Regions from separate parts of the Homo sapiens genome. Here regions 2, 3 and 4 are each reported to be linked to region 1. The links are microRNA targets in miRTarBase. Many come from high-throughput screens and were not tested one by one. Region 1 holds a microRNA gene; each other region holds the end of a gene's coding sequence.
Evidence for each region. The annotated mature microRNA hsa-miR-519c-3p reads AAAGUGCAUCUUUUUAGAGGAU and lies in region 1 at 1,439-1,460, opposite strand. An mRNA with a match to its seed (bases 2 to 7 or 8) in the 3' UTR can be bound and repressed. Matches are read on the target gene's strand: a 7mer-m8 pairs with bases 2 to 8, a 7mer-A1 pairs with bases 2 to 7 and ends in A, and an 8mer does both.

Region 1 (3,185 bases):
CATACCTCTAATCCCAGCACATCAGGAGGCCAAGGCAGGAGATTCACTTGAGCTCAGGAGCTCAAGACCAGCGTGTACAACACGGTGAAACCCTGTCTGTAAAAAAATACAAATGTAGGCCAGGTGTGGTGGTACATGCCTGTAGACACTAATTCAGGAGGCTGGGGTGGGAGGCGAAGGTTGCAGTGAGCCAAGACTGAAACACTGCACTCCAACCTGGGCGACTGAGCCAGATCTTGTTGCAAAAAAAAATTTAAAAGAACACACAAGCAAAAACCACCCCAAAGTGATATCAGTCATCTCTGTGTGTAGAAGAGTATTTTTTGTGTATATAATTATATATATGGCTATATGATGAAATATACATCATATATAATATATATATACACACAAACACACCCATATATATATTTTTTTTTTTGAGACAGAGTCTCTCTCTCTATATAAATATATATGTATATATATATTTTTTTTTTGAGACAGTCTTATTCTCTCGCCCAGGCTGGAGTGTGGTGGCGTGATCTTGGCTCACTGCAACCTCCATCTGTCCGTTCAAGTGATTCTCCTCCCTCAACTTCCCCAGCAGATGGGAATACAGGCGTGCGCCACCATAGCTGGCTAATTTTTTGTATTTTTAGTAGAGACAGGGTTTCACCATGTTGGTCAGGCTGGTCTCAAACTCCTGACCTCAAGTGATCCACTCGCCTCAACCTGCCAAAGTGTTGATATTGCAGGCATGAGCCACCGCTCATGTCGTATACACACAAAAACTGCTCATATACTCATGCGCCTGGCTGTACATCATTTATTTTCCAGACCCTATCTCAAAAAAAAAGAAAGTTCCATATACTGTATGCTCACATAAAGAATTACTCCTACACATAAATGTTTGCTCCACACATAAGAAATGAATGGAGTGACAGAGATCACCATGGCCCCTGTGCAGAGGTGATGCCCAAATTCATGATGGGTCTCATATTGAAAATTAAGATCAAAGGCCGGGTGCAGTGGTTCATGACTGTAAACCCAGCACTTTGGGAGGCCGAGGCAGGTGGATTACGAGGTCAGGAGATGGAGACCATCCTGGTCAACACGGTGAAACCCCATCTCTGCTAAAAATACAAAAATTAGCCGGGCGTGGTGGCATGGGCCTGTACTCCCAGCAACACAGGAGACTGAGATGGGAGAACCACTTCAACCCGGGAAGGGGAGATTGTAGTGAGCAGAGATCGTGACCCTGCAAAGAGGACCACCTGAGCCCAAGAGAGCTAGGTTGGAAGTGCCACTGCTCTCCAGCCTGGGCAAAAGAGACCCCGTCTTAGAAAACAAACAAACCAGGAACAAAAGCCCACCCTCATCCAAGTCTGATGATAAGCACGCTCTGCAAATGTATTGCCGAGATCAGCATGAACGTTAACGTTGCTTTTCTCAAACTGTAATCCTCTAAAAAGATGCACTTTCTTTTCTTTCAGACAACAGAAAGCGCTTCCCTCTAGAGGGTCACAGGCTGAGATCTTCTTGCTCCAGCACCATTGATTTTTTGTTGGAATTTTCCTTGACCAGGTTAAAATGGACACAAAAATAAAGATGCATTTATTGGCCCTGTTTGCATGATTTCTGGAATCCAGAACATAAACCCCTATCAGGGCCATCTCCAGTTCCTTGTTTCAAAAAGCAATGCCGACTATACATACCTTATATTTAACCATGAGAATTGGGCTGGATTCTAGAGAACAGCAATAGATTTTGAGCTAAGTGTTCACTCGAGTTCCAGTACAGTGACACACAGTCCCGACGGGGGCATCCAAAATGGAATCTACGATGTTGAAGAATATGCATTGTCACACACACAAACACCCTCCAGGAGAGACCACAGGCCAGGCTGTAAAAGCTCCTCAATAAAATGAGCAGAAACACACAGGTACAGGTGAGGTGTGGTGGCTCACACCTCTAAACCCAGCCCTTTAGGAGGCTGAGGCAGGAGTATCACTTGAGTTCAAGAGTTTGAGACCAGCCTGGGCAACATGGTGATACCTCATGTGTAGAGAAAACAGAAAAGTTAGCCGGGCGTGGTGGTGTGCGCCTGTAGACAGCTACTCAAGAGGCTGAAGTGGCAGGTGGAGGTTGCAATAAGCTGAGATGGCACCACTGCACTCTAGCCTGGGTGACAGACCCAGACCTTATCTAAAAAAAAAACAAAAACATACACACACAAACAAAAAATTACCCAAAGTGATACGAGAGTATTCTCTGTGTATAGAAGAGTGTTTTGTGTGTATATGACTATGTTACATGTATAATAAGAATATGATAAAATATATATTTTTGAGACCGTACATCAATAAAAATTAAGTTCCATATACTATGTGCTCACATGAAAAATAATTCCTACACATATGTGCTTGCATTGGCAGCACACATTAAAAAAAATTGGAGGCTAGGCTGGGTGGCTTACACCTATAATCTCAGCATTTTGGGAGGCTGAGGCAGGCGGATCACCTGAGGTCAGGAGTTGGAGACTAACCTGGCCATCATGATGAAACTGCATCTCTGCTAAAAATGCAAATATTAGCCAGGCGTCGTGGCACGTGCACCTGTAATCCCATCTACTTGGGAGGAGAGGTTGCAGTGAGCAGATAACATGCCACTGCGCTCAAGCCTGGGCCAGAGACAGAGACTCTGTTTCAAGAAAAAAAAAAAAAGCAAGCACGGGACCACTTGAGCCCAAGAGATCTAGGTTGGAAGCGCCACCGCACTCCAGCCTGGGCAACAGAGACCCCATGATGCAAAACAACTAAACAAAAACAGAACCCCAACATCATGCAAGTCTGATGATAAGCACGCTCTGCAAATGTGTTACCAAGATCAGCATCAACTTCAACGTGGTTTTTCTCAAACAGTAACGCTCCAAAAGAAGGCACTCTGCTTTCAGACAACAGAAAGTGCTTTCTTTTGGAGAATGACTGCATGAGATCTTCTCGCTCCAAAAGTCTGGGTTTTTTGACGGAATTTTCCTCACCTGGTTAAAATGGACACAAAAATAAAGATACATTTATTGACTCTCTCTGCATGTTTTCTGGAATCCAGAATATAAACCCCTAAAAGGACCATCTCCAGTTCCTTGCTTCAAAGGCTCAGCAGGTTAGCCTTGTTCATCAAGAGACAATCCTCCTGAGTTCTGTCCC
Region 2 (3,176 bases), not on the chromosome of region 1:
GTGGGGGGCATTGCTGTCACCCCAAGCTGAGGGTTGAAATCCAAGAGGTTGATCTTGTGATTTACAGATCTCTCTCATGTAAGAGGAGCAACAGGAAAGCACGTGAGAAAGGCCTGCAGCACTGAGTGCTCAGGGCTAAGGTGACAGTACTGCTCCCAGAGACCCTGACGGTCTCAGCAGGGCATGGGCACAGAAATCCTCTGGGTATTAGAGACAGACGCCTACCAAAGCACAGGGCGTCATCCCACGGTCACCCTGATGAGCCTGGTGTCTCCCTCTGTTAGGTGATGCTGTGTAACCCCATCTGCGGCGTCAGCTATGCCCTGACAGTGTGGCGATTCTTCCGCGATCGAACAGAAGAAGAAGAAATCTCACTAATTCACTTTTTTGGAGAGGAGTACCTGGAGTATAAGAAGAGGGTGCCCACGGGCCTGCCTTTCATAAAGGGGGTCAAGGTGGACCTGTGACGGGCAGTGGCCCCGGTGACCTTGGGGCCTCCGACCCTGTGCAGCCTGGGACAAAACTGTTTCCGGTTGGCCGCTGCCACATGGATTTTCTTAATCGTTTTATGTCATTAGTCACTCTTCTGGAATGTCACTCAAGACCAAGCGGTCAGAAGGCCTGAGGACCCAAGGCCCCACTGGAGCAGTCTGTCCTTATGCCGAATCAAGGCGGAACATGGGTGAAAGACGAGTAAGGGGCAAATCACAGCAATATTCCACAGCGCCCTCCAGAGTTACCTGGGGAGGACCGAGGCCACACGCCACTGCCCCCGAGGCCAGAGTGTAAGTAAAGGATAACCAGGACTCGCTGGGAGAGATGGACTCTGTCCTCAGCAACACTCCACAGCAGAAAGGGGTAGCAGGTACCCCTTCTTATCAGCGGTAAAAATGCATTTACAACCTTTCATTTAACCGAAAAACACAGACCGCTTTAACCTCTTTATTTCTGTCCCCCACTGCATGAACATCTATACAATTTTAAAAATACTTCCTCATAGGATGCTTTGGCCCTTCATCTATTTAATCATAGCTACATACCTATTTTTTATAAGTAGCAGTACACATTCAAAGGGGTATTCCTAGCTCAATGCTTGGTGTTCTAGTTCAACTTTTATCCTGCAGCAAGTAAGCCTAGATAACTCTACACGATTTGGCTGAGTGGCTTTGTGTGACCGTGGCCCCAGGCCAAGGGGATCATGGCCCTGGCTGGCTTTCCCGGGGGTCTCAGCTCCTGTTGTCAGTGATAGGCGGCTCAAAGGAGCATCAGTTTCTTTTGATCCAAGAAGTGCTTACTGAATGCCTGCCCTGTGCGTGGCCTTAAACATTGAGAAGTGCTGCTCTCCGTTTATTTGGGATTTGATTCTCATTTTACCATAGCTTATATTCTCAATTTCAATGCCAGTCTCAGAACTCTTGTTTTCTGTGTTCTGTTCTCAAAATTACATTGTCCCTCATGTCATTTCAAACTGTTTTCCAAAGGGATTTGAGCATATACAACTACAAATCCAAGCAGATTGACTCTCAAAAATAATCTTAAATACTGCAAATAGTCCCAACTAAGATTCAGTCAGTATGTTTGTTTTGCAAGTTTGGGAGAGTAAGTTGGCTTTGAGTCACACATCGAAGCTTTAAGAGGTGAGACGCTGGCTTCATTCTGGACTAGACAGGAACTTGGCCTCAGCGTGAGATCCTGCCATGCAGTGTTGCGGTGGCACTGAAGAAGTGTGAATGTGAAGGCGGCGTCGGCGCGGGGCCAGAGCACCACTCTGCTGCCCCACCACGCGGCCTGTGAGGAGCCACTAAACCTTTCCGTGCCTAGACCTCCCCATCTGTGGAATGGGGTCAATACCACCTACCTCACAGGGGTGTTGTGAGGACTGAGAAGAACAATGTCAAATGTTTTTAATACTCAGATGTGGGAGCGACATCAATGAAATCTGTACTGTATGAAAGCTACACAAAAATGGGCAGACATTTGGTTAATTGTGCCAGATACCTAAAATGTATGTTCAGAAAAGCATTTTATCAACTCAGAAATATGACTTATTTCTAGATTTCATGGCTTAATGAATTTTTTCATTGTTATATATACCAAAGAGGCTTACGGGTTCATTGATTGGTTTGAAAACCAGACAGACGGCCGGGCGCGGTGGCTCACGCCTGTAATCCCAGCAATTTGGGAGGCCAAGGCGGGTGGATCATGAGGTCAGGCGTTCGAGACCAGCCTGGCCAACATGATAAAACCCCGTCTCTACTAAAAATACAAAAAAATAGCTGGGCGTGCTGGCGGGTGCCTGTAATCCCAGCTACTCAGGAGGCTGAGACAGGAGAATCCTTTGAACCCAGGAGGCGGAGGTTGCAGTGAGTTGAGATCGGGCCTTTGCACTTCAGTCTGGGCAACAGGGCGAGACTCCATCTCAAAAAACAACAACAACAACAAAAAAAACCGGACGGACTTGCCCATCGGCCCTCACGACACGCGTGCAGTGGGACTCTAGCCAAGGCGGTGGCCGAGCCATCATTACAATTTTTCTGGAGTAAAGGATCCACGGTGGGACATCAACTGGCACTTACTCTGTTTAGGAACTTGAGTTGAATCATTTCTAAACTTGTCCTTTAGACCACGCCTAGGGCAGCAAATTCCACTTCCTAGAACTGCAAACCGGGAGAGGATGTAGTTAGATTCTGGCATCCTGCCCCGGCTCTTTGAGGGAAAAGTTCTTTCCCCTGCTCTAAGTAGGGCGGGCCCAGCCTCCATTCCCATTGGGAGCCATGAAGTTGTCTTGTTGATAGGTCTAGGGCAGCTGTTGGCAGCTGCTGGCCTTGTGGATGGTAAGCTGACTGTGTTGGCATTTAATGCCATCCTCCATCTGCCAGAGGCCCAGGAAGCCCACCTTCACACCAGGCCCACCAGCTGGAAGGAGCCCAGGAGGCAGGTCTTAGGGTTTCATGGTGAAATGCTGTCTGACACCAGGGAAAACTTGACGTACTCTGCTTTGGAGAGGAATTCCAGGGGTAGGGATGGTGGGAGAACATTCCCACCCTGTTTATAATCCCAGAGCAGAAGTCAGCAATTACTTAGGGATAAAAGATGAACTCCATTTTTTTTATTTTCTTAAGACAGTCTTGCTCTGTGGCCCAGGCTGGAGGCTGGAGTGCAGTGGCACCATTTCG
Region 3 (3,185 bases), not on the chromosome of region 1:
TGGCCAGGCTGATCTCGAACTCCTGACCTCATGTGGTCTGCCCACCTCGACCTTCCAAAGTGCTGGGATTACAGTAATGCGCCACTGCACCCAGCCCAAAATTTTCAATAGTTAGGATAAATTCTTTCTTTTCTAATTTCCTTCTTTTGCTCCTTCCTAAATTTACCATTTTGGGAGGCTTGATTGTCTTAACTAATTCTTTGGAACATTATGATTTTTGAACTGTCTGAGACTGTGTTCCTGAGCAACTGGTTAGGAAGAAAGTCTGCAAAAATTTAACATCAATTTAAATATATCTTAAAATATATTAAAAATAATCCCTTGTTAAACAATTTTGACACTTTGGGATATACTCCAAATGAAGCTTTCTATATAACCAATAAATAACAGTTCGATCTGTACGCCTGTTCAAACAGTAGTACAAAGTTAAAAACCAATTACTTGGCCAGCTTGCCTTGTCCTAACATTATGATATAGCTATTACTATCAAGTACAAAGACACATAAACCAATTGATAAATTATATATTACATGTTTATTAAGAGCACAACTTTTATGTAAAATTTACATTTAATGAAAAAAATCAAAAATATTTACAAAATCTTGGAAGACAGATGTGCATTGTTCTAATTACAATCCAAAGTAGTAAATAACAATCCTTTAAAACTCACATTTATTAGAGTTGTGTTTACAAATTCTTGGTTAAAGAGGCAGCTACAAAGTTTATCACTATATATAAGCAAGAACCAGCTTGCTAGGTACATTTCCCATTGAAAATCTACTGGTCTCTTTTACACCATTAGTGGATTTTTAAATGGAAAAAAAAAATCAATATAAACTCATATGGCTTCAAAATTGTAACCTGTACCCAATACTTGGTATGAAGACTGTGGTAACTAAGAAAGTGCAGAAGTTTAACCATTTCACTAATTTGTACATTTTTAGGTAATATTTGATTAAAAACAAACACGGTAAGAACAGTGTCTGAATTCCAATAATAAAATATTGGCTGCCCTAAAAGCAGTTTGATTGCAAAGCAAATTACAGTTAGAATTCCAGTAAGGGACTGTAATTGGCATTTAAAAGAGCACAATATAAGAGTTAGAAATTCTAATTTAGCTCACTATTTAGTAAAGATTAGCATTTTAGCAAATTATCTTATGTGCTGCTTTAGTCAAATGTAAATTCAGACTTGGGCTAACATTGAATATATAAAAAAGCATATACTGTGTTATATATTGCTAAAGAGTAGATTTTCTGCTGTATTTAGTACAGCAAGATGTTACATAAATGTCTAGTAATAGAGGTTTTATTTTCTGTGAAGCTTAACGGAACAATTAGTGGTTTTATATAAATTATCATATATAACACAATTTATCACTTCTACTAGGCAAATAAAGGACACTCATATTTATTATTATAAATGAAATTCCCATTTGTAAATTATGAAACCTTATCCGAAATATTTTATTTCTTCAATTAATCAAGATTTGCTACTAAAGTTAGGTTTCTTACTATTTAGTATTGGTAGTTTATTTTTAGAAATGTTTAACCAAATATATCACTTCAAATAATTTCCCTATTTTTACAAAGTAGAAATTGAATAATTAAAATGTACAAATTGGTAATTTTTCCAATTGTTGAAATAAAAACAAATGGCAGTGCTTCTCCTTCTGTTTCCAAAATTAATCTTTTAAAAAATGCATCCCTCACAAAATACCATAAAACTCATGTTCACAACACAATCAGTAAATAAATGCATAAATTTTCAATGATAAAGTATCAAGGAAAATGCTAAATTGAGAGTTAAAATACCAGTTACCAATTTAGCACTATAGTTTTTTTAGAATTTGTTTTAAAATTCACACACTTTTGATGAGGTTAATGTCAAGTATCTGAAGGTAATCTTTCTTCCTGTAAACACATGCCATTGGGTTTATTTCTCTTTCTAGTGGCTACAGTGTATCACCAAAGAAGTGAGCCAGGATTCTTAAGTTAGGCTTTATGACTCTGAATCCCCTTCCCAGTTGCAGGCCAAAAATATTTACAAAAATTGCAAATATCTTATAAAAATGCTTGATCACTGTAAGATTCTGAACAGAAGATTCAGACTGAGAAAAAAAGTGAGGCACATTAATGAACACAAATTGTATAGGCACATCTCTGGTTTTTGTTATTGTTTTAAAAGGCACACATTATGCAATTCCATATAAAAATAAATTAAATCTACAGCATTAATTCATCAAAAAAATCACAACTCCTATAAAGTTAACTAACTGCAGAAGTAAATGTCTCTGCTGTCATTTGCAAGCTTATTTTAAAACACATTGCACTTGAGAATTTTTTTTAAAAATCATATAAAACATCACTTATACTTTATTAATATGTTTATGAGAATCAAATTATAGATTTTTTGCATACAACTTGGACTCTGGTCTGATTACCTTATGGCACATAGCTCAATTTGATTAAGTGTTCTGAGTTAACATTACCCAAAACTTAGAATTCATGTTCTATTTGTATCCACTGAATATCAAACTTATGAAATTTCAAAGTTATCTCTGACTCTAAAAATGTATGGAAAGCTAAATTACTTTGTGCTTGCTCTTCTGAAACTTTAGGCCTGATATTACACTATAACCCTTTTTTTCAACATAGACACTGGAAATAATTTAAAAATTAATCCTACAAAAACTTCATTTTTACTGAGAATCTGAATAAATGTGCTTCCTGAATATTGTAGTTGATCATTTACAACATAGAGAATCATTTCAGTACTATTTATTTCAATGACTCACTTTAAAAGTGCGATTTAATGTTTGTAGTCAGCTCTCAAATATGTCTAAGTTTGAAAGACATCATACAAGTTAAAATAGTGTTTGGAAAGAACAGATAATGCAGAATGGCAGGTTTGTAATCCCTGAAGCCACATCACTTTCCCAGGTCCATCAACAATCCGCCAGGTATCGTCCTGAAAAACGCCAAGCAGACCTTTGCAATTACAATTTCAAATGCACTCTAAGGACATTTTCCACTGTGGTTACCAATACAAAACTCTAGTTCCCATCTGCTATTTACAGTACATTAGAATCAGATAACAGGTGTTCAGCTATACTGACCGTAAGAACTCTCTCCCAGGTGTGTCTCTACCTGGCACCTTGTACCAAGGGTTAAAGAAAAAATTTC
Region 4 (3,185 bases), not on the chromosome of region 1:
GTTATAAAATGTGACTAAGAAACGTAACATAATTATATAAACTTTATTCAGCAAAATAAAGGGTTTTTATTCGTGTTGTTATGTTGTTTTTGTTTTTTATTTTAAAGGAAATGGAGAAATCAGATGCCAACAACTTCTTAATCTTGTTCCGGGATTCAGGATGCCAGTTCAGATCTTTATACACTTATTGCCCAGAAACTGAAGAAATCAATAAACTGACTGGGATAGGCCCTAAATCTATCACTAAAAAAATGATTGAAGGACTTTACAAATATAATTCTGACAGGAAACAGTTTAGCCACATACCCGCTAAAACTTTATCTGCCAGTGTTGATGCAATTACCATTCATAGCCATTTATGGCAGACCAAAAGACCAGTAACACCCAAAAAACTTTTACCCACTAAGGCATAGAAGTTGGGAAATACTTGCTTCAGAACATTCATGGTAAATTTGCACTTCATCTTTCCTGCCTATAGAAAATCTTTCTAATTGCCAACAAGACTTTTATTAATTAAAACTGGACATTAAGCTCTGTTGTCATGAACAACTGGAATGTAAACCACAGTATTTTGGAGTGCAGAACATTCTCAATTAAGTGATAAGTCCAAATGATGAAGGAAATGTTTTAATTCACAAATGGAGATTTGTATGTGTTATCAGGTTCACCTGCTTGATATTAGATACATTAAAGCACTGAATTTTCATGGATATTAGTTGGATTTATCATTGAAATATGGTTAAGATTACAAATTATGTGTTTTATTTGTTGCTTTTTTTTAACCTTTTAATGTATATTCTTGTCTTCAGATGGTTTGCTATTTTTCTCTCCTGGGGGTTTATTCTAAGATACCTTTGTATTTTATTTCATGTGGAGATCATGAAAGTAGGAAATATACCTTTAGAAGTAACTCGCACCTTTCTTATGATGTTAAGAGAAACACTAGTGTTTAGTTTTACAGTAACCCTCATATTTTAATGGTGTTACAGCATTTGCAAAAATTATTCTGCTAAGTATTTACAACTCTATTTATTATTCACTCAAGTATTAACATTCTCTATTAAATAAGAGGAGGTGTTGTAAAGAGCTGCTAGTAGGTTCGCTTTAAACCACATGAGCTTAACCAAGAATATGTTATGAGAAGTTGCTGATTAAATCAGTGCTGTTTTTACACCACTTCTGGCCAACTCAGAATAATTTAGATTGTTCTTTTAACAAAAAAGGCTTTCTATCTCTTTTAAAGTAAGTCACTTTATAAGTTGGCAGAAGTGAATGACACTTTGAGAGTAGTCTTTCAATCTGAAGATGTAAGACTTCCTGAAACAAGTTCTCAAGAAGTCTTTACATTATATTTATAACTCATATAAAAATTATATTTAGAATTTTTAAACATGTACAAAGGGCTACATTTTAATTTTAAAATAGCTTCACATTATTTTACTTATATTGGGTTTTTCTTCATTTTAATCCTTTTCAAGTGGAATGGCTTAGAATAAGTATACACTTGAAATCTCCTCTACATGATCTTTGTTCTTTAACAGTGTATACCAGAGGGTTAGTTGGGGAAAAACTTCATTCTCAGGAAAAGACTTGAATGATTATGTGACCCTGTTATATTTCAGTGTTGTGACAAATGTGTAAACTAGCGGGGGAAGACAGTATTGTATCATAAATGAGATGCGTAGTTTGTTTTCTTTCATGGGAAGTAGAGATAAAAATATATACATTTCTCTAATTGAGTTGTTTAGAGAAAGAACTAATGTCTCATATGATGTATTTACTTATTTTAAAAAAAAGAATAGGAATGAGATGTCCCTGAGCTGTACTTTTCTATTATTATAAGGCCTTTAGGCATCAGTGCATCTGGGTTATCAACATTTTCTCAAATGCTGTCAATATTTTACTGTAATTTATGTTCTTATATTTATGTATATTTGTTAAAACTGTAAAAAAATTTCACAGATTTTTTTCCAATACCTGTGCAAGATACATGTGTAGCTCAAAACTATTTGTGATCTACTGTTTGCATGTAAGAGACCAGGATATGTAACTCTTATATTTTAAGTGTATACATATTGTGTATATAACATATGGATATTAAAAATGGGGAATTGCACATTTTACCTTTTGGACAGTAATTTCTATCACAGTTAGAAGGAAATGATAGTCAAATACACGTTTAGATTAAAACTAGTTTAAAAAATTATAAATGAATCTAATCAAAATGTGAATAGTAGTCAAAAGGATAATTTAATAAGCATTTTACGTTACTAAATTTGTTCATTTCAATATTAACTAAATTTCCCTCATCAAAGCAATCTTTGTGATATTACTTCGCTATTAAATAAAGAAAATTGGATGCAAGACAATGGAGAAACTTTAAAACTAAACAGGACCACCCTTTATTCTTAAATTTGTGTGTGTCCAACAGTTGAATTGAATGTCTATAAGGTCTAAAGGTAGAATGTGAATATTGCCACAGAGTTCATTGCTCTCAGTATAAGATTTTACTTTATTAATGCAGAAGGAATATGGATATATTTCTTTAAGTCTGCAGATTTTTTTATTATGGTGCAGCTTTTTTTTAATTATGTTTTTAAAATTATACAGTTGAAAAATATGCCATTTCATAAAGTCTGAGGATTTTCGTCAACCTTACTGAAACACACTGGTGCTTTCATCATCAGAGGTCAAATTATTATGATAACTATTCCATTAAGTTTGCCAAACATTTGTCGTGGTTACCAGTGCAGCCTGTCAAATTCTGCTATTTGACACAGCTTTGGAAAGATTTAGTTCTTGGTTTTTCCGTTTTGTATTAGAATGACTGTTACAGTTTTATTTGGCTGTTTAAAGCCAAATTCAGCTATTTAATTATGGTTTCATGGACACTGTTGAGCAATGTACAGTGTATGGTGTGCTTACCTGTCCACTCTAGAGCATTGCTTACAGGTTTTTTGTTTTTTAAGATGCTGTGCTGTAAAATACTGTCATACTTGCTATTTCCTGGTACAGTGTAGTTTTTCCCCTTTCATTTGAATAAAAGCATGGCACCAAATGACTCCTTTTCTGTTTCTTGAATAAAATGTAGTTTTTGGTAAAATTATTTGAACTTGAGATAACTCATACAGTTTTTCTATCCCCTAACCTATGTTTAAATTTAATAACTTGAATATTCATAACAG

Region 2: the mRNA of ICMT is a reported target of hsa-miR-519c-3p. Seed matches in the 3' UTR shown: 7mer-m8 at 2,384-2,390 and 7mer-A1 at 2,569-2,575.
Region 3: miRTarBase lists FCHO2 as a target of hsa-miR-519c-3p. Seed matches in the 3' UTR shown: 7mer-m8 at 902-908.
Region 4: the mRNA of CAMSAP2 is a reported target of hsa-miR-519c-3p. Seed matches in the 3' UTR shown: 7mer-m8 at 454-460.

What each region holds. Positions count from the first base shown.
Region 1 is chr19:53,684,797-53,687,981 of GRCh38, reverse strand. It overlaps MIR519C (microRNA 519c), which reads right to left and starts at 1,513; the gene lies at 1,427-1,513. MIR515-2 (microRNA 515-2) reads right to left here and starts at 2,973; the gene lies at 2,891-2,973. The region is part of intron 2 of LOC107985342 (a long non-coding RNA gene); the gene reads right to left.
Region 2 is chr1:6,222,371-6,225,546 of GRCh38, reverse strand. It overlaps ICMT (isoprenylcysteine carboxyl methyltransferase), which reads left to right. Exons shown (of 5, transcript NM_012405.4): 5 at 285-3,176. The coding sequence ends at 467. Among named protein-coding and RNA genes, the nearest start is that of ICMT, 12 kb to the left of the region's middle.
Region 3 is chr5:73,087,853-73,091,037 of GRCh38, reverse strand. It overlaps FCHO2 (FCH and mu domain containing endocytic adaptor 2), which reads right to left. Exons shown (of 26, transcript NM_138782.3): 26 at 516-2,970. The coding sequence ends at 2,948. Among named protein-coding and RNA genes, the nearest start is that of TMEM171, 31 kb to the left of the region's middle.
Region 4 is chr1:200,857,647-200,860,831 of GRCh38, forward strand. CAMSAP2 (calmodulin regulated spectrin associated protein family member 2) reads left to right here. Exons shown (of 17, transcript NM_203459.4): 17 at 108-3,058. The coding sequence ends at 413. Among named protein-coding and RNA genes, the nearest start is that of GPR25, 14 kb to the right of the region's middle.